Homo sapiens: one gene and its partners. The protein of the gene in region 2 interacts with the protein of the main gene of each other region in a pairwise test. Each region holds a gene or a part of one and is shown on either strand. Other genes may lie near its edges.

Region 1 (4,674 bases), on a different chromosome or scaffold from region 2:
GTCTGAGCAGAGAGTTTGGGGCAACAGGGAGGGAGCAGTGGAAAGCAGGCTGATATTCAGGAGATAACCAGGACTTGTAAGACTGTGGGCATGGGAACTGAAGGGGATGCTCTGCAAAGGGCCTGGGCCCACCTTGGCTCCTCCCTCACTTCTCAGCCTAGCCAGGAGCAGAGAATGGGACAGTCTTAACCCTAGACATCCCAATGGGCTTTGGGCCTTGGGGTGGAGAGAGGATGAGAAAAGATGTCTGGGCTTTTGCAATCGGGAGGGATGCCTGGAGGAGGCAGAGGTGTTGAGAGGCAAGGGGAGGGAGGAGATCTCAGGTACAAGGTTTGTTCCCTGGGTGGTGGCTGCAGCCACAAAGTCTGCCAAGCAAGGTCCAGCTCAGGCATGTCAGGATAGGACTCGGCCCCCGATCCCTTCAACAGTCCCCAATGCCACTTGGGCTGCCAGGCCCTGTGCTGGGTCCTGGGGACACTGATGGCTCTGTCTGCCCTCAAGGGGCTTCCCAGGGAGCCGGACAAGCAAGGGGCTGAGGCCTCCTGGAGAAAGCATGGTAGTGGAGTCGGCGCAAGGGGCGGGGTGAACACAGAGGATGTCAAGGAAAGACCCCACGAAGAGGTGGCATCTGAACTGGGCTCTGAAGGCAGAGAAGGAACAGGGGAGGCACAGGAGTGGTGGGCTGGGGGGCTTGGTGCCCCAGCTGGGGGTGCCTTGTGCAAAGGCACCAAGGCAGTGAGAACCAGGAGCAGGGCTGGCCTGGCCAGCAGGGTCTGGGTGTGGAGAGCCCAGAGTGCCAGGTGGAAGGGTCTGGCCTTCTCCAGAGGGCAGCGGGAGCAGTCTTGGCTGGGAGTTCTGTGGGCCAGAATGTGACTGGGAAAAAACATGGCAGGGATTGCCCCACTCCTCCCGTGCAGACCTCTCAGGCCCTCCCATGCCCCCTCCACTGGCCAGATCAGGAAATGAGCCCAAGGTTGCTCAGAGCAGGAGCTGGAGGCCCAGCCTCTAGCCTTCACGCCTACCCCAGGCCGGGTCACCCTGTGTGGTGTTGATATTCTGGGCTGGGGGGGAGGGAGAAAGGAAGAGCATTCACCTCAATTTATCTGGAGATATGGAAGAGGTTGTGAGGCTCCAGCCTCCAGCTCCACACACTCTGCCCTTCCTCTGCCAGGGCAGGGACTGGGAACAACCTGAGACGGCAGCCACACCTGATGCCACTCTCCCTACCCCTTGCAGGTATGAATTTGGCCCAGCCCTGTTCGTGGGCTGGGCCTCAGCTGGCCTGGCCGTGCTGGGCGGCTCCTTCCTCTGCTGCACATGCCCGGAGCCAGAGAGACCCAACAGCAGCCCACAGCCCTATCGGCCTGGACCCTCTGCTGCTGCCCGAGAGTACGTCTGAGCTCCGCCTGCCCTGGCCAGCCCCCCACCCAGTGGCCCCCTTGCCCAGCATCCAGCCAGCCTCGCAGCACCCTGGGCAGGGCCACTGGGGCATAGGATGGGCATAGGTGCTCTGAGCAGCTTGTCCTCAACACAAGCACCCACCCTGCAATCTGAGACCCAGATCCTCAGAGAGACACCAGAGGCAGGACCCAGCCCCCAGGCATACACACAGATGCAGGTCCAGGCACGGTCTTGTCTGCACAGCCTGGTGGGCACCAGCATGCATCCCTGGAGACAGGCCCTCAGGCACCAGCCCGGCTGTTTACTCACTGAAGAGCTGCTTGGGTGTCTGCTACGTGCTGGGCCCTAGAGATAGAGCAGTGGCCAAGACGTACCTTAGTACCCAGGTCCTTGGGGTGAGCAGAAACCTTCACCCTCCCCAGTCCCATGGGCTCCTCACAGCAACCCCACAAGGGCAGTGCCGGGATGCTGAACGTTCACACAAGGACAGGGAGGGTCTGAGTTTAGGTCTCAGGTTCTTCCAGTGCGCCCAGGGCTGGGGGCCACCTACACAGATGGTGAGGTCGGACCATGGCGCCCCTGCCCCCGGGAATGGGCCCCAGGCAGGGCTGCTGTGAGGGCCAAGGTCTGGCCACGCTGGCCAGTACCCATGTCCGGGCCTGAATGCACAGCCCCTGCCCCCGACCCCACAGCTCACTCCACTAACCAGCTCTCTCTCTTTTGACTTTCAGACCAGTTGTTAAATTGCCCGCCTCCGCCAAGGGCCCCCTGGGTGTGTAATGTCCAGTCCCCAGCCAGGCTCTGTCCCCTGCCATACCTAGACTGTGTGTTTCATATTTTTTTGGAAAGAGAAGTGAACATCCAGCCCCAATCATGGTATCATTCGGTCTGTCCTCAGCGTGGCTTGGACGGGGCCTGTGTCAGAGTGGTCAGTGCTGACCCCTGGGGCTCTTGGGCAGAAAGATGAGGAGACAGAGGTCCAGGGTGGGTTACATAGCACATCCAGGGCTAAGCAAGAAATAATTCAGAGGTCCTACCCTCTGTCTAGGGACCCCCCTCCCAAGCCTGGCCTTGGCCTTGGCACAAAGTCCTCCTTGATAGGAGATCCCACTCACTCCTGGAGGCTGCCCCTGAGGCTTGGCCCAGCTCTAGGAGCAGTCCCCAGGGTCAGGGAGCCCCTGGTGTGGAAAGAGGCCCCAAGGTAGTAAACCCTGCCCCTGTTACTGTGCTCCAGAGACCTCCTAAGGGAAGGGACAGTTCCTGGAAGGCCCTCCAGCTGGATGCTGGGGATCAGCGATAGGTGAGGGGACACAGTGTAGGAGCTCCCCATGTAGAAAAGGGAATGTGGGGAGGGCGTTAGGAGCTTGCAGGCATTAGGACTGTCCTGAGCAAGGTCTGCAGCCCCCAGCTCTGCTCACCCCGAATCCTGCCCCTTGTTTCCACACCTACCATTCCTCCTCTCCTGATCCCCAGCATCCAGCTGAGGTCCAAGGTCTTTGTCCTAGAATCAGAGTGGGGAGGGGACAGCCTGGGGCTGCCCAGAGACTGTGGGTGGAGCTGCCTGCTGCACTCAGCAGTGCGGTCAGAGAAGGGCTTTTGGTCTTGAAGTCCAGGTACCATCCCCCCTTAGCATACAGGGGGAAGGGCCTGAGAGGAATGTAAGGAAACCAGCCCAGATCAGTCCCAAGGCCAGAGTCCTTTGTCCTACATCTCCCTGAACCAGAGTGTGCCCTGCCCCTCATGCTCAGACCTCTCCCACCCCAAACCCTCTCCCGGGACTCAGTCTCCCTGGCCACTGCGTATCAGGCTTCTGGGGAAAGCATCCATCACAGAACCTCCCCTTCCCTGCCACGCACCTTCCTTGGCCAGCTCCATTCTGGCCTCCTCCACCACCTGCCTTGTGACCACATCTCCCACCACGTCCCCAGATCTCAAGAACGCAGCTCAGCTTCTCCTTCGAGCTTGACTCTGAGAGGGAAAGTGACGGAAACCAAGTCAGATGAGATGACTGCCATGTACACTGCAGTCAAGGGCAGGGAGGGGAGGAATGACACAAATGGCAGGGAGCTGCTGGGGGACTGACCCCTCGGCGCCTGGCCTGGCCGGTGCTGCACATCCACCGGGGCACAACAGGGACTTGTCCAGCCTCTGGTCAGAGGATGTGGCCACCTGACCCTAAATAGGTTCCCCAGAGTCCTGCCCCTCTAATGAATGAGAACTGCAGGAGTTTCTCCTCTGGGTGCCTGAAGCTATAGTGCAATGGTTCCCAACCCTGCATGCACATTCGAATCACCTGGGGGCACAATGCCTAGGCTCCAACCCCAGACACTCTTATTTCATTGGTCTGGGTGGACCTGGCATCAGAAGTCATGTAGCTCCTCAGGGGACTGTAGTGTGTGGTCAGCACTGAGGGCTCCTCTATGAGGCCTCAAGCCCAGGTGACTCTGTGAGGTCTGCAGAGGGAGAAAAGAACCCACAAGGGAAGAGGTGGAGGTCAGGCACGGTGGCTCACGCTTGTAATCCCAGCACTTTGGGAGGCCGAGGTGGGTAGATACCTGAAGTCAGGAGTTCGAGACTAGCCTGGCCAATATGGTAAAACCCCGTGTCTATTAAAAATACAAAAATTAGCTGGCTGTGGTGGTGGGCACCTGTAATCCCAGCTACTCGGGAGGCTGAGGCAGGAGAATCGCTTGAACTCGGGAGGTGGAGGTTGCAGTCAGCCAAGATCGTGCCACTGCACACCATCCTGGATGACAGAGCAAGACTCCATCACAAAAAAAAAAAAAAAAAAGAAAAGAAAAGAGGTGGGTAGCCGGGCGTGGCGGCTCATGCCTGTAATCCCAACACTTTGGGAGGCTGAGGTGGGTGGGTCACAAGGTCAGGAGTTCGAGACCAGCCTGGCCAACATGGTGAAACCCTGTCTCTATTTTTAAAAAATACAAAAATTAGCCGGCTGTGGTGGTGGGCACCTGTAATCCCAGCTACTCGGGAGGCTGAGGCAGGAGAATTGCTTGAACTCAGGAGGCGAAAGCTGCAGTGAGCCAAGATTGTGCCACTGCACTCCAGCCTGGGCAACAGAGCAAGACTCCATCTCAAAAAAGAAAGAAAGAAAAGAGGTGGGGAGAGGAAGCCCCACTCACTCCTGCCTTTCCCAATACCAGGCTGTTCTGTGACACGCCCACATCTTCCCAATCAATTCCCCTTTTGGCTGAAAAAACGTTGAGTTTGAATCCTGTCCCACACAGCCAGAAGAGCCCTACCTAACAGGATTTG
Region 2 (7,960 bases):
TTTAATCAATATGCTATAATTATTGTGTAATAATAAATTACCATAAACTAGGGGTGCTATGATCTCAATATTTGTATCTCCCACTCCCAAATTCACATGTTGAAATCCTGACTCCCAAGGTGATGGCATTAGGAGATGAAACCTTTGTGAGGTCATTAAGTCATGAGGGTAGAATACCGATGAATGGGATTAGTGCCCTTACAAAAGGGGCCCACCAAAGCTGCCTTGTTCCTTCTACTATGTGAGGACACATCTAGAAGTTACCATCAATGAACCAGAAAGTGGGCCCTTACCAGGCACCAAATCTGCCAGCACTCTGATCTTGGACTTCCAGCCTCCTGAACTGTGAGAAATAAATTTCTGTTGTTTATAAGTTACCCATTTTATGGTATTTTGTTACAGGCACATGAACTAAGACAAGTGGATTAAAAACAACACAAATTATTATTTTACTGTCTAGAAATGAGAGGTTCAAAATGGCTAAAGTCAGGGTGCCACTGATAGGGCTGCATTTCTTTTGGAGGCTCTAGGGAAGAAGCCGTTTCCTTGCCTTTTTCAGCTTCCAGAGGCCACCTGCATTCCTTAGCTTATGGTCCCTTGCTACAGCTTTAAAGCCAGCAGCACAGCACCTTCAAATCTCTCTCTGACAGTGACATTCCTGCCTTCCCCTAATAAAGACCCATGTGATTAGATTAGGCCCACCTGGATTATCCAAAATAATCCCTCTGTCTTTAGACCCTTAACCATATGTGCAAAATGTCTTTTGTCATGTAAAATAACATCCTTACCTCAAGGTTTTGGGAATTAGCTTATTAATGTCTTTAGGGGGTCATTATTCTGCTTTCCACATACATTTAAAATTAACTATCAGGCTACAAAAGTCATATATGAATTGAGCTTGTTTTGCCCCAAAGGCTGTGTTCTTTTTTTATTTTTTTTATTTTTATTTTTTGAGATGGACTCTCACTGTTGCCCAGGCAGGAGTGCAGTGGCACAATCTCGGCTCACTGCAACCTCCGCCTCCTGGGTTCAAGTGATTCTCCAGCCTCAGCCTCCCAAGTAGTTGGGATTACAGGTGCGCACCACCACGCCCAGCTAGTTTTTGTATTTTTAGTAGAGACAAGGTTTTGCCATGTTGGCCAGGCTGGTCTCCAACTCCGGACCTGAGGTGATCCACCTGCCTCGGCCTCCCAAAGTGCTGGGATTATAGGTGTGAGCCACCACACCCTGCCAGCTGTGTTCTTTTACATCATAATACACTGCCTTTTATATCCCTCACTTATTCAATATCATTACCATCCATCATGCTGTCACAAACACAAAAACCCAAGAAAAGTGGGATACAGGTCATTGAGAATAAATAATTTTTATAAACTTTTGTTCTTTCTTGTAACTTTTTATCAGTCAGCTATTCCAATGAAGCAAAATCTGATAATATATTGCTTTTATACTACTTAGTTGAGACACTCACATCTATTGAAGAGTAATGGGCACTTTGAAGGGGCTTTTTTCTTTCCTTTTATATCCGGTCAATTAGTCATTAATTTCTGCCTTCTAATATAGACTCAACTAAAAAATTATATTTTGAAAAAAATTTATTTTCTAAATGAAATTAAAATTACTCTGTATGTGTACTTCTTTTCCTCACACTGGAATTCTCTAAGGACAGTGTAAATGCACATCACTGTATCTTATGTGTGGTATCTTATGTGTGGTATCAGCTATTTAACACAAGGTTGCATAAGAAAGTAAGCACGACGATATGGCTTAGAAGTCATGAGATTCACATAGTTTAATATAAAGCTCTTGTGATAATTGGAGAGTTATTTTGTCACATTTCTCCTTTCATAATTTATGCTCCAGCTCTCTCAGATTTCAGGTGTTTTCCCAACTCTGAGATATATTCTCTTCTCTCTGGGCCTAACTAAAGAAACTAGAAGACTTTCTTCAACTGGAAGACTTCTTCCTCCACCTCAAATGCCTCACTTTATTTTTTTTAATTAATTAATTTATTTATTTATTTATTGTTTTGAGACGGAGTCTCGCTGTTTCGCCCAGGCTGGACTGCAATGGCACTATCTCGGCTCACTGCAAGCTCTGCCTCCTGGGTTCATGCCATTCTCCTGCCTCAGCCTCCCGAATAGCTGGGACCACAGGCGCCTGCCACCGTGCCCGGCTAATTTTTTGTATTTTTAGTAGAGACAGGGTTTCACTGTGTTAGCCAGGATGTATGTATTTATTTATTTTGAGACAGAGTCTCATTCTGTCGCCCACGTGGTGCAACCTTGGCTCACTGCAACCTCTGCCTCTAGGATTCAAGCAATTCTCCTGCCTCAGCCTCCCAAGTAGCTAGGACTACAGGTGCAAGCCACCATGCCCAGCTAATTTTTGTATTTTTAGTAGAGATAGGATTTCACCATGTTGGTCAGGCTGATCTTGAACTCCTGACCTCAGGTGATCCACCCGCCTTGGCCTCCCAAAGTGCTGGGATTGCAGGTATAAGCCACCATGCCTGGCCTAAATGCCTCACTTTATTTAACTAACTCCAGCTCATTTGATTGGTACTTTCTTGGGAAAACTTCTTCTGGGTTAAGTGCCCTCATTAACTGCTCTCCTAATAAATTATTCTACTGCCATTCACATCTTGTTACAATAAGTCATGTATACCTACTTATTTTTCAGTTTCATATTAACTTCCTTAAAGAAAGGGACATTACCCTCAAAGTCCACCTGGCGTGCTGGCTGAAAGATGTTAAGTTTGAAAATATTTGTTAAAGGGTAAATGATTATGTACATCTTTAGGACTTCATGAACTTACTTTCAGTTTAGTTTCCACATAAGGAGAAACTTACAGCAACGTAGAAACCAAGAGATTGATATGAATAAATGATGTGACTAACTCACAAATACCATGTCATTTGATATTTGACCTTTAAAGTAGTTTTCATATCAGATCTGTCAGTCATGGGTTCTATAGCTTACTGTGAACTTAGACATATTAGTTAGTCCCTCACCCAAAATCATCTGAAAAATAAAGGTAATATCAGCCTCATTAGTTAGTTATGCCAATTAAATAAGAACACATATTTAAATCTCATATTAATGTGTATGGAGCATAGTAAGCAGTAATAACCTGGCATGTTGTCATGCCAGGCTAGTAACAGTAAAAGTAATAGTAGTTTCACTGGAAGGTCCAAGATTAGTGTGGAAATTCCAAGATGATTAGTGTGGAAATTCCAAGATAAGTGTGGAAATCTCAATTTATCAGGGTTTACCTTTTGTCCCCTTTAAGCTAACAATGAAATTATAAAAGGATATAAAAGGGATAAGCCTGACAGTTCATATCCACTTCTGTGTATGATAATATAACTGGAGAGACATCAAACTCATGCTGAGAACAACTAGAAGAGTTAGAATTGAAGAAAAAGGATTTCATTAAGATATTAGAGAGTGTTCAAGGCAACTGGAGGCAGAACGAAGATTCTGGAAAGGGGCCACAGAGAAGTGAGTCAGCATTCCAGGAGCCACCCTTCTCTTAGGGGCATCTTGGCAGTGGGTCAGATGCTGAGATTCTGGGGAGAGGGCTGTGGATACCAGGCATTTTTTTGGGGGAGAGAAAAATCTCTTCCTAAAGCACTTGAAGGACCAAAACCCCCAGAGAGGAGAGAGGGCCAAAGAAATGAGAAAAATTTTTCTCTCAAGCAATTTTCAAATTATTAAATTTCACAGGAAAGGAGGTTAGGAAGAACTATGTGAAAAACAGACTTGAACTTTTGGCAATCACATGTTGTTCAGGAGACAAAACCAAATTCAACTTCCAAGAAAGAGAAGCAGCTTTGATAAAAAGCAGGTTCTCAGATGGAATTACTAGAAGGCTTTATCATAGGTCCTAGGACAAACTAGAAATGATGAAATAGTAAAGAAAAAGATATATAAAATCTTACAGAAACTGGAACTCAGTCCTAATGCAACTTCATTTCTATTTGATAAAGGCAATAGCTGTCCAATCTGGAACTTATTTCTTACAGGTAAGGGGGGCTACTGTATAGAATTCAAAAGCAGGGAAAATATGTTGTCAGAGTTAAGATAGAGATTGTATTTGGGGTAATGAGCGTTGCAGGACATGAGTAGGGCACATAGCGTGTTGGTATTGTTTTACGTGGTTTTAAGATATACTTCATCTAGGCACTTGTTACATGTTATATTTTTAATGAATGTGTTTAGTTGTATGCTTATGATTTGTGCACATTACTATAAATTATATTTTAGTAAAAGGTGCCCTTACTGGCATTTATATACAAGAAATCAACACATCTGACAAGAAGCTCTTGCTGCTAAAGAGCCTCTGTGCTCCTGGATCATGCCAGAGGGAGCACAGAAGCTGCACACCGTTCAAGCCCATTTTTGAAAAGTTGTTGTAGCAGCCATAGCAGCAAATTCCCAAAATATCTTGAAGAAATTGAAAACAAGATATTTTTTGAATGAGCGTAAACTCTTGGGAATGAATTTTAATTTGAGATTAAAATTGCTGTTGTCTTTACTTACCTAACATTCATTTCCTCTGAGAGCCAACTCCTTCCTTTCAATAAATTCTTATTTTCTATCATAATATTGCTTTGTACCGCACAAAATACAATTATAATTTTTAATAGTCAAAGAAATTTTAAGTTATCAAACATTAGTTTCTTTCGTAACCAAAATACTGTTAGAGAAGTAGCTTCAACTTTTTAAAATTCTTACAAACACCAGTTTATTCTGTTGTGATGAGCTGATTTTTGAAACAATTTATGCTTCATTTGTTCCTCTAGCTATATTTAACTTAAAGGCTTGACATTTTGAGTTACTGGGGCGGTTACACACTTACACGTTTTAGTCGTTGGGCTTTTTTTTTGTTTTGTTTTGAATCATTCTTGGGGTTGAAAACGTAGAGACTGTGGTTTAGATCACTCATAGAAACTGGAGGCAAAATGCATGACAGTAACAATGTGGAGAAAGACATTACACCATCTGAATTGCCTGCAAACCCAGGTAAGAAGCTGGGCTCTACAGAGTAAGTGTGAGGACTGGAATGGGAAGGTAGTGGTAGTGATGGGCTCACACAGGAAAGGTGCTGATCTAGTAAAAAGTTTTCAAGGATAAGAGATGGAATGTGGGAGTCCATAAATTGGCTTATAATTTGTGTAAAACATGCATATATTTATATTCCCAGTTCTAACAACTAAGGAGAGGGAACAATGAGAGAAAGATGTAAGACAATGAGATAAGGTTAAGTTTAGGATTGAAAATAACAGTTAATTTCACTAAAAAAAAATCTATACAAACTCTAAAGTGTTACTCAGATACAAGATACCATCATTATTACATAGGTAGAAAACCTATCATGGAAGCTCTTAAGAGAGAAAAGGTAGAAAATAGTATGTAAAGGACATTTACAAATCAAAAAAGTAACAAAGGTTGAGTAGAAACTTAGTAGGGCATTCTAATGGAATTATGTTACATTGGATGCACTGGAAATATATATATATATAGCTTTATATGATGCTTTAGTAAGTGAAAAAAATGACTTTTGCCACAGTTAGGGAATATCAAGGTTTTATAACTTAGGACTTAAAAGTTTGGAGTTTTCTCCTCCCAACTTAAAAGGTAATCAATTTGGAGAAAAGGTAATTCAGAGGCAGAAAAAGATGAACTCTAAATGTTGTTAAATGACTTCATTTATTTCTTCATTCATTGGGTATTTTGAGCATTTTATACCAAATGCTTTAAACTGTTTGTCGGATAGTTCCAACATCTCTGTCATGTCCTCCTTGGCTTGTGTTTTCTTTCCCCATGGAAGTTGACATTTTCGTGGTTCTTCATATACTGTGTAATTTTGGATTGTAATTTGAACATTTTGAACAAATATTTAGTTAGACTGGATCTTATTTAAATTTTGGAGTATATTGATACTATTGTTTTAGCAAGCAATCACCCTGGTGAGATGAAGACAATCTGTGGGATCTGGTTCCAATGTCAGTTCCATTCTGAAAGCCTTTGTAGTGCTATTCAGACATGTGCATCAACCAGGGGTGAAATTGGGAACTGTGCAATGCTCTACTCATTAGTTCAGGTCTTAGCATCTTTAGTGTGCCAATTAGAACCATATCTAGGCATGCATAAGTTGAGGGGCAGGTGAATCCAGGAGTTTATGAATAATGTTCATGGGTCTCTTTCTAAAGTTTCTTCCTCTTCACCATCTGACCCGTACTTTCAGGTTCCCAGGGGCTTCTCCTTTCCATCCTCCAGCTAGAAATGCGGGCCTCCTTTTATTCTGATGAACCATATACTTCTGCAATTATAGCTGCATCTTTAAGCTCATGTGGCAGACGGACAGTGAGAAAGAAGAAAAAAAAAGCAAGAGGTTTGGCCCCACTCTCATGGAGCTACAGCTCAACTGAATGGAAAGGATTGACTTTAGATTTCTTTTCTTTTTTTGAGGTGGAGTCTCACTCTGTCCCCCAGGCTGGAGTGCAGTGGCGCGATCTCGGCTCACTGCAAGCCCCGCCTCCTGGGTTCACGCCATTCTGCCTCAGCCTCCTGAGTAGCTGGGACTACAGGCGCCCGCCACCACGCCCGGCTACTTTTTTGTATTTTTAGTAGAGACGGGGTTTCACCGTGTTAGCCAGGATGGTCTCGATCTCCTGACTTTGTGATCCGCCCGCCTCGGCCTCCCAAACTGCTGGGATTACAGGCGTGAGCCACCGCGCCCGGCCGAGGATTAACCTTTCTCAAGGTTTTGGCTATTGCATGTTGCTGTAGTTTCCCCTACCATCATCAGATTGCCTGAGGTTTGAGGCACATGAGAATGTAGACAAGAGGGGGAGAAAAAATAAACGTGGTATTTTCACACTCTATTTGAGATAGGAGTTTGCTTTTCTGTTCCTCAGACCATACCTCTAGTGCTTCTCCTGGAGCCCTCTCTTTATGCTGACAGAGGCTCAATTCCATGTTTCTGGCTGTATTAAGTTCGGGGCAGTGATACTAGAGGAGGGAAATTTAAATTCACCACTGGTTTGATGGCTCTTTAAATTTGGATATTCTTGTAAGATCTGCTGCTAGTATATCCTTTTTCCTTTTGCTCTTTTTTGTTTTGTTTAAAGACCATATTTTTAGAGCCATTTTGGGATCACAGCAAAATTGTGAGAAAGGTAGTTTTTTTTTTCATTTTCTCCTTGTTGCCACACATATATAGACTCTGTCTTAGTCTGTTTTGTGCTGCTATTACAGAATACCCAAGACTGGGTAATTTATAATGAACAAAATCTATTGGCTCATAGTTCTGGAGGCTGGAAAGTTCAAGACTGAGAAACACATCTTGCTCCATCATCCCATGGCAAAATTTGGAAGGGCAAGAGAGCACATGCATAAGAAAGAGAGAGAGCAAGAGGCACCAAACTTGCTTTTATAACAAATCCACTTTCGTGATAGTAAACCCACTCCCATTATAAGGACATTATGACCTGATTACCTCTTAAAGGACCTGCCTCTCAACACTATTGCATTGGGGATTAAGTATCTAACACATGAACTTTGGAGACACATTCAAACCATAGCAGTCTCTAACATCAACATTCTTCACCAGCAGTACATTTATTACAATTAATAACCTACATTGGCATATTGTAGCACTCAAAATTCATAATCTGATGGACTTCCCTTTGTCAGTGACCTGACCTTTCTCCCTGGCTGCCCTTAATATTTTTTCTTCCATTTCGACCTTGGAGTATGTGTCTTGGGGTTGATCTACTCATGAAGTATCTTATTGGGGTTCTCTGGATTTCCTGAATTTGAATATTGGCCTGTCTTGCTAGGTTGGGGAAGTTCTCCTGGATTATATCCTGAAGTGTGTTTTCCAACTTGGTTCCATCCTCCCTGTCTCTTTCAGGTACTCCAGTCAGTGGTAGGTTCGGTCTTTTTACAT
Region 3 (6,870 bases), on a different chromosome or scaffold from region 2:
CTACCTAGATACAGGGACGTAGAAAACACAGGGGACCAGCCCAGAATTTGAGGGGGGGTTAAAAGTAGAGTGCAATTACCCTCTCCCTAGGCTCCAAGGCCCGTTAAGCTCATGGGGGTAGAAAAGCTCTGAAGATTTACAGATCTGGCTCATGTGCCTTTTAGAATGCCCTTTCTTGCCAGCACTGTCAGCCCCCAGGTTTCCTGGCTTGTTGGAGGTGATCCGTGGAGCTGACCATTGTCACCAGTTCCTGAATGTTCCATTTCAGAGCTTCAGAGTTGGAAAGATCAATTGTCCAACAGCACCCTGACGCCCAAGCTTTAGCCTTAAGGGATCTAAACAAACAAACAAACAAAAACCTAAAAAAACTGATGGTGTACCCTGAACCTTTAAACAAAGCTGGTTCACTCTCATACCACCTCAGTGAGCACAGAAAACCAAGCTATCCGCAACAGCACCTAGCTACATTTACCCATAAACTCTTCCACGTTTGGAATCCTTGCACTTGGTTTTGACTTGCTCTGCCTGTCAGCTTTTGACAACTGCTTCTTTTTTCTGCAACTGGTTTGGGCTCACTTCTCATCTCTTGGCTTGGTACCTCACCTGATTTGAATGTCACTGTAACATCATGTAAAAGGCATCCTTCTGCTAGCCTGAGCCTCAGAGAACTTCACCAGATACACTGGTAGCCTCTCTTCCAAGGAAGAAAGTACACAGGCTATGGTTTTCTTCTACGGCAAATTGGCTATGGAATGACCTGTGGGGAAGACAGAAACTGGCAGTTCACCTGAATCCTGACAGCTCATATGTCCTTCCACTTACCTTGGCCAAACTACTAGGAAATACTGAAAAGATGGCAAGACAGAAGGGACATGGGACATCTCTATGTCTGTCAGTCAGTTTAGCTCTTACTTTGTCATAAAGGGAGACACAAGCATAACTGCCTGCCAAGTCAGATGAGTTGACTCAACCCCATGATCAATAGCTCACCAGACGGGGCAGCCACAACCTTTCACATTTATCTGTTCCTCATCCTTATCAGGGATTTGATATGTGAGAACTAGAGCATGTGTTCCAATTCACTGTGGTCTACTTTTAACACAAATAAAATTATAGATCAAACTGGCTTTGAACACTTCAAAGACCAGACATTATCAAAGTGTTTTATAAGCCTATATGTTCTAGATGTGGTCACTGTGCTGCTCTGCCTGGGATGGAGACTGAGTGATCTTATATAACATCACCTAAAGCATGACCTTTCACTGCTCAAAACCACCCCAGAGTCCTCACCAGGGCCAGGAGGCCTTCCTTGCACTGGCTCCTACCCACCTCTGTCACCTCACATCTACCAGGGCTCCTGGCTCAGTCTGCTTTAGTGCATGCCTTATTCGACGTTGCCTCTGAACATCCCAGCTCACTTTCCTCTGCTGGAACATTCTCTCCCCAGGCTTATGTGGCCCTGTTCCTCACTTCATTCAGGTCACCTCAAATGTCATCTTCTCAGAGAGACTGTGAGACCATCTCTGATCACCCTAATAAAACAGCAGCTTTTGTCAGTCTCAATTTCCCTGCTTTATTTTTCTTTATGGCACTTAACTCTCTGACATTTTATACACACACACACATGCGCGCGCGCGTTCATTGTCTCTTTGTTAGAATGTAAGCTCTCTGAAGGTAGAAACATTGATTTGTTCTTCTCTGTTTCTCCACCTTAATCAGTATCTGACACAAGTAGATATCCAACAACTAGTAGCTAAAAATATTCAAACGTGAATACCGTAGACTATACAAGTATAGAGAAAAACTGCCTTTCAGGAACTCAGCTGTAACTTAACTCCTACCACCTAGAGTTCTATGATTATCATGATAGGAAAGTAGCTTTTAATCTAATCTACAAAGGATTTCATGAGAAGGAAAATTCTGAAAAATAGTTTTTAATGAGAATCTTATGTGAGGATCTTTCACACACACACACACACACACACACACACACACACACACACACACACATCTATCTATCCATCTATCATCTGTCTATCTATCTAATCCTCACTGAAGCCCCTTAAGGCAGGTATCATCTGCATTACCACAGATAAATACACGTGGACTCTGTGAGATTGTAACTTGAATAATGCCATGTGTACTAAAGGTACCAGATCCAGGAACTCAGATCTACCCGTCCCCAACAGCCAGGCAGCCAGGCATTTCCCTATTATGGTACCATGGGATATTGTCAGACATACACACACACACACACACACACACACACACACACACACACACATATATACATACATATAGTTATGACCATGGGCTAGGCTCTTATCCAGAGCTAAGCACTATGGATACAGTGATGATTAAATAAGATAGACACTGTCTTTAGTCTCATAGTGCTTACAGACTGAAAGGGATCTTGTAGAGCTAAAATTATGCTTGCTGCCACAAAAGTGGTATGTTTTCATTTTTTCATTCACTCAAGAAATATCTATTGACTACATACTATGTGTCATGCTTTGTGTTAAGAGCAAGGAATAAAATGGTGAGTAAAACCAGACCTGATTCCTGCCTTCGTGGGGCTTACAGTCTAATGAGGAAGTTATGAAATAGTCACATGCAAACATGGTGCTGTGAGATCCTACAAATAGGGGAAGCAAGCTTAATTAAATTAGGAGATTCTTGCTTGAGGAAGTACCACTTAATCTGAGATTTAAAGGATAACTAGGAGTTAAAAAGACAATGAGGAGAGAGAAGAACACTCCAGGTAATTCAAACAGCATGTGAGAAGATCCTATTGTAGAAGGAAAGATGCGTGCAGGAAGTCTTTGAAAGAGGCCAGTGTGGCTGGAGAGCTGGAAATAAGAAGCATCCTGGTGTCAGAGGAGCCTGAGAGGTGGGCAAGAGCAGGACTATAGGGCATTGTATGAAATCTGACATATGTGCTAAGTCAAAATCCGGCAGTGTGCTCTCCCAGTTGGTCTCTAGGTTAATGCTCATGCTAATGTAGCAACTCCAAGCTAGGGACAAAAAACCTTGGAGCAGAGAGGCTCATGGGTACCGGCAAGCTGGAAGAAGACTAGATAATCACTAGGATCTGCACTGAAACCAAGGCTCTGCTGCTTAACCGCCCCAGAGAGTCGTCAAGTGAAGAATGGCCTTTCTGAACCTTCACTTGCAGAGTGCTAATGTAGTAGTGGAACAGAATGCTGTTTTGGGAGCCCATGAAATTAGATTTACATTCTTCATCTGTTATCTCTACGTTTCTCAGGTTATAAAATGGGAACAAAGATATTTCCTTTTAAGTATTGTTAAAGATAATTAAATAAGATGATGTATTAAAGGACTTGACCTAGCGCTTAGCTCATAGCAGGTATTCAATAAATAATAGCCATTATTTTTCTTTATCTGTTAAATGGAGACAGTAATAGCACAGATTAAGTTGCTGAGTTATGAAGATCTGATTAGATTATGCATGTGAAAGCAATAGGCCGGGCCTCCTCTGCGTAATCTTATTTCTAATTTTAAGAGCCAGGAACCCACTTTTTTGGAGCCTGATGTTCTAATATTCCTTCCTTACGAAAGCCAGGTCATTGCTTTTTTCATCTGCCTGATGCACTGTAAGAGCCTTGTGTGTTCTTTCAAAAGCGATCTCTCATTTTTCTCGTTTTGGGTTTTTAGGTGTCTTTACATTTGGCAATCTCCGTCCTACAGAGGGCTGGAAAAGCCCTGCGGGAGACGGCATATCCACCACCCGCTGCTGGGTCGGCCCTGCAGCTGTGTGCACCCGAGAACTGCCAAAGAAGCTGGGTCTTGGCGCGGCGGGACGGGCCAATCAGAAGAAGTTTGGCCCTCTGCAGTTTCCGTCCGCTCACTAGGAGGCGCTGCGGCAGCGACGGCGGCGTCGGCGGCGGCCGGGGCTGTCGCGGGTTGGGGCGGTTGGGCTGGCAGCTGAGGCTCGTGGCCATGGAGTGGGGTTCTGAGTCGGCTGCTGTGAGGCGGCACCGCGTCGGAGTAGAGCGTCGAGAGGGAGCGGCGGCCGCGCCACCGCCGGAGAGGGAGGCCCGAGCGCAGGAGCCTCTGGTGGATGGGTGCAGCGGCGGCGGGAGGACGCGGAAGAGGAGCCCCGGGGGTAGCGGCGGCGCGAGCAGGGGCGCGGGGACCGGGCTGTCTGAGGTGCGCGCCGCGCTGGGGCTCGCGCTCTACCTGATCGCGCTGCGGACGCTGGTGCAGCTCTCGCTGCAGCAGCTCGTGCTACGCGGGGCCGCTGGACACCGCGGGGAGTTCGACGCGCTCCAAGCCAGGTACCGGCCGCTCCCTCCTGGCACGGCCCGCGCGTCCGTTTGCGGCTCCTGCGCAGGCTCCGGGGCACCGCACCTGTGTGCACCCGCCCCTGCCGGACCGCTGGGACTCGCTGACCCCTCCCAGGCTGCACGTGGGGTGGGGTGACCTTGCTTGTCCTTCTTCTGGGGTCTGAATTGCCGGGACTTGGGGCTTGCCTGTCCCCGGTTAAGCTCGTGGTGCAGATTGGGGTTGCCAGGTAGATTGAACCTGCTTTCCACTGTCTGCCCTTCGTGCAGATGGTTGGTTGTGAGTCGTCTCCCCATATTCTGGAACAGCTTCCCCTTTTTACCTTGCTTAGCCCTTCTGCTTTCCAGATGGAAATTTGTGTACCTAGACTGTTGTATAAATTCGCTTTGGGGGCGGGGAGTTTTGGAAGGCGCTAGTGCACTGTTCTAACTTTCTGAGGGTTACAGCCCCCACATCTGAAGGCTATAGAAACTCTTTCTGGAACACCGCCCAGTCAAAATTTGGTATGCAGTCTGATAAATTCTCAGATCCCTGCAGTTTATCTTTAGGCCCCTTGGATTAGTGACTGTGTAAGGTTTGACTTTTTTTTTTTTTTTTAAGACCTTTAAGAATGCTAGGAAAGGTGATTAAGTCAAAGATATTGTAACCCAGGTGTGTCAAAGCTCATGAAGTGTTAAGCTGGCGTCAAGTTTTCAACAGCTACTGTGTTCTAAAAAGTTTTTGCTAGAATGCAAAGTGTTGCAAGCTTATTAAGGACTTTCTGAAACGTCTCCCACCCCCACTTCCAGCTTTCCCCACTTGGAATGCAGTGAAAAGACAAAAACAGTTTTGTTTTCATTAGGGGTACAGTTGGTTTTGGCCTGAATTGAAGTTATTAGACCTTGGGTGTATGCTAGGAGGGCTAGGTCCATCAAAAGTTTCCCCCGCCCGCCTTATTTAACCTCTTGACTTGATTATTTTTGCTCATTGGTTTCTGCTACTTAAAGTCATTAACCCAGAATCTGTAACGTTCAGGAGTATGCACAGTGAAGTTATATTCTATCCTGCTTAGTCTTTAGCTTTTTTTGTTTGTTTTCTGAGACAGGGCCTGGCTCTGTCGCCCAGGCTGGAGTGCAGTGGCTCCATCTCGGGTCTGTAGCCTCCACCTCCCAGGTTCAAGCAGTCCTCCCACCTCAGCCTCTTGAGTAGCTGGGACTACAGGCGGATAGTAGTCTACATCTGGCTAGTTTTTGTAGTTTTAGAAGAGATGGGGTTTCACCATGTTGCCCAGGCTGGTCTCAAACTCCTGAGCTCAAGCAATCCACCCACCTCAGCCTCCGAAAGTCCTGGGATTACAGGCGTGAGCCACCGTGCCTGGCCAGTGGTCACACGTTTTGAATACATCCCTAGTCCTTGTATTGGTTTGATATGGGGAGAAGTTGGGAGTGGGATGGTGGAGAAAACTGAAGGGGTCAACTCGTGGGAGGCAACAATAAAAATATGGAACTTTATAAGTGATGTTCACTTGGTGTCTGAAATAATGAAAGGCGGTCCCTTTTATATAAGGCAAAGAACTAAGCTTTTTTGGGGAGGAAGGGGTGTGTAGTGGAAAAGTTACCCACGCTAAGTGTCAATTTTAACTACAAACCTTTGTTATTCTTTTGGTTACTTCCAGGGATTATCTTGAACACATAACCTCCATTGGCCCCAGGACTACAGGAAGTCCAGAAAATGAAATTCTGACCGTGCACTACCTTTTGGAACAGATTAAACTGATTGAAGTGCAAAGCAACAGCCTTCATAAGATTTCAGTAGATGTACAACGGCCCACAGGCTCTTTTAGCATTGATTTCTTGGGAGGTTTTACAAGCTATTATGACAACATCACCAATGTTGTGGTAAAGCTGGAACCCAGAGATGGAGCCCAGCATGCTGTCTTGGCTAATTGTCATTTTGACTCAGTAGCAAACTCACCAGGTATGTACCTGTTTTTTAGTCATTTGGAACTTGTCACAGCCCAGAAAGTTTATTAACATAACCCCAAGCTACTTGGGCAATTGTGGGGACCATTTTCTTGGGCAAACCTTTTTTCTTTGTGATGGAAAGCAGGATAATTAGGATAGTATCATTTAGTTTAGGATCTAACCATTCTGTCTTCTCTTAAGTGCTTTATTAATATTATTTTTTGGTGTTAATGCCAGCAGCCCAGTGATAAGACTTGGAATGTTTCTGGTAGACTGAAGCAGCTTTCTCAATGTTACCAGACAGTGTGTGTGTCCTAGTGTCCTGGAGTTAGGTTCTGACACTTAGAAAGTGTTTTACTCAGCTGGGTGTTATACTAGGCTTTGGGGATACCACATAAGGACAGTCCCTGCCTTCAAGGGTTACTGCATGGTTTTAGAGCAGGGGTGTCCAATCTTTTGGCTGCCCTGGGCCACATTGGAAGAAGAAGAATTGTCATGGGCCACACATAATATACACTAATGATGGCTGATGAGCTTAAAAAAAAAAACTCATGTTTTAAGAAAGTTTACAAATTTGTATTGGGCTGCATTCAAAGCTGTCCTGGGCTGCGGGTTGGCGGAT

The links.
Region 1: the proteins of CLEC2D (region 2) and CLDN19 interact in binary tests that used the Homo sapiens proteins (3 or more experiments, as listed by UniProt).
Region 3: the proteins of CLEC2D (region 2) and ERMP1 interact in binary tests that used the Homo sapiens proteins (3 or more experiments, as listed by UniProt).

Annotation. Positions count from the first base shown.
Region 1 is NC_000001.11:42,732,593-42,737,266, reverse strand, and holds the end of CLDN19 (claudin-19), read left to right. Parts: intron 1-1,236; coding exon 1,237-1,389; coding exon of another isoform or gene 1,390-1,505; exon of another isoform or gene 1,506-2,132; coding exon 2,133-2,181; 3' UTR 2,182-4,174; downstream 4,175-4,674. UniProt on the Homo sapiens protein: Forms paracellular channels: coassembles with CLDN16 into tight junction strands with cation-selective channels through the strands, conveying epithelial permeability in a process known as paracellular tight junction permeability.
Region 2 is NC_000012.12:9,664,768-9,672,727, forward strand, and holds the start of CLEC2D (C-type lectin domain family 2 member D), read left to right. Parts: upstream 1-4,945; 5' UTR 4,946-4,967; coding exon 4,968-5,028; intron 5,029-7,960. UniProt on the Homo sapiens protein: Receptor for KLRB1 that protects target cells against natural killer cell-mediated lysis. Inhibits osteoclast formation. Inhibits bone resorption. Modulates the release of interferon-gamma. Binds high molecular weight sulfated glycosaminoglycans.
Region 3 is NC_000009.12:5,830,118-5,836,987, reverse strand, and holds the start of ERMP1 (endoplasmic reticulum metallopeptidase 1), read left to right. Parts: upstream 1-3,870; 5' UTR 3,871-3,960; coding exon 3,961-4,298; intron 4,299-5,959; coding exon 5,960-6,261; intron 6,262-6,870. UniProt on the Homo sapiens protein: Within the ovary, required for the organization of somatic cells and oocytes into discrete follicular structures.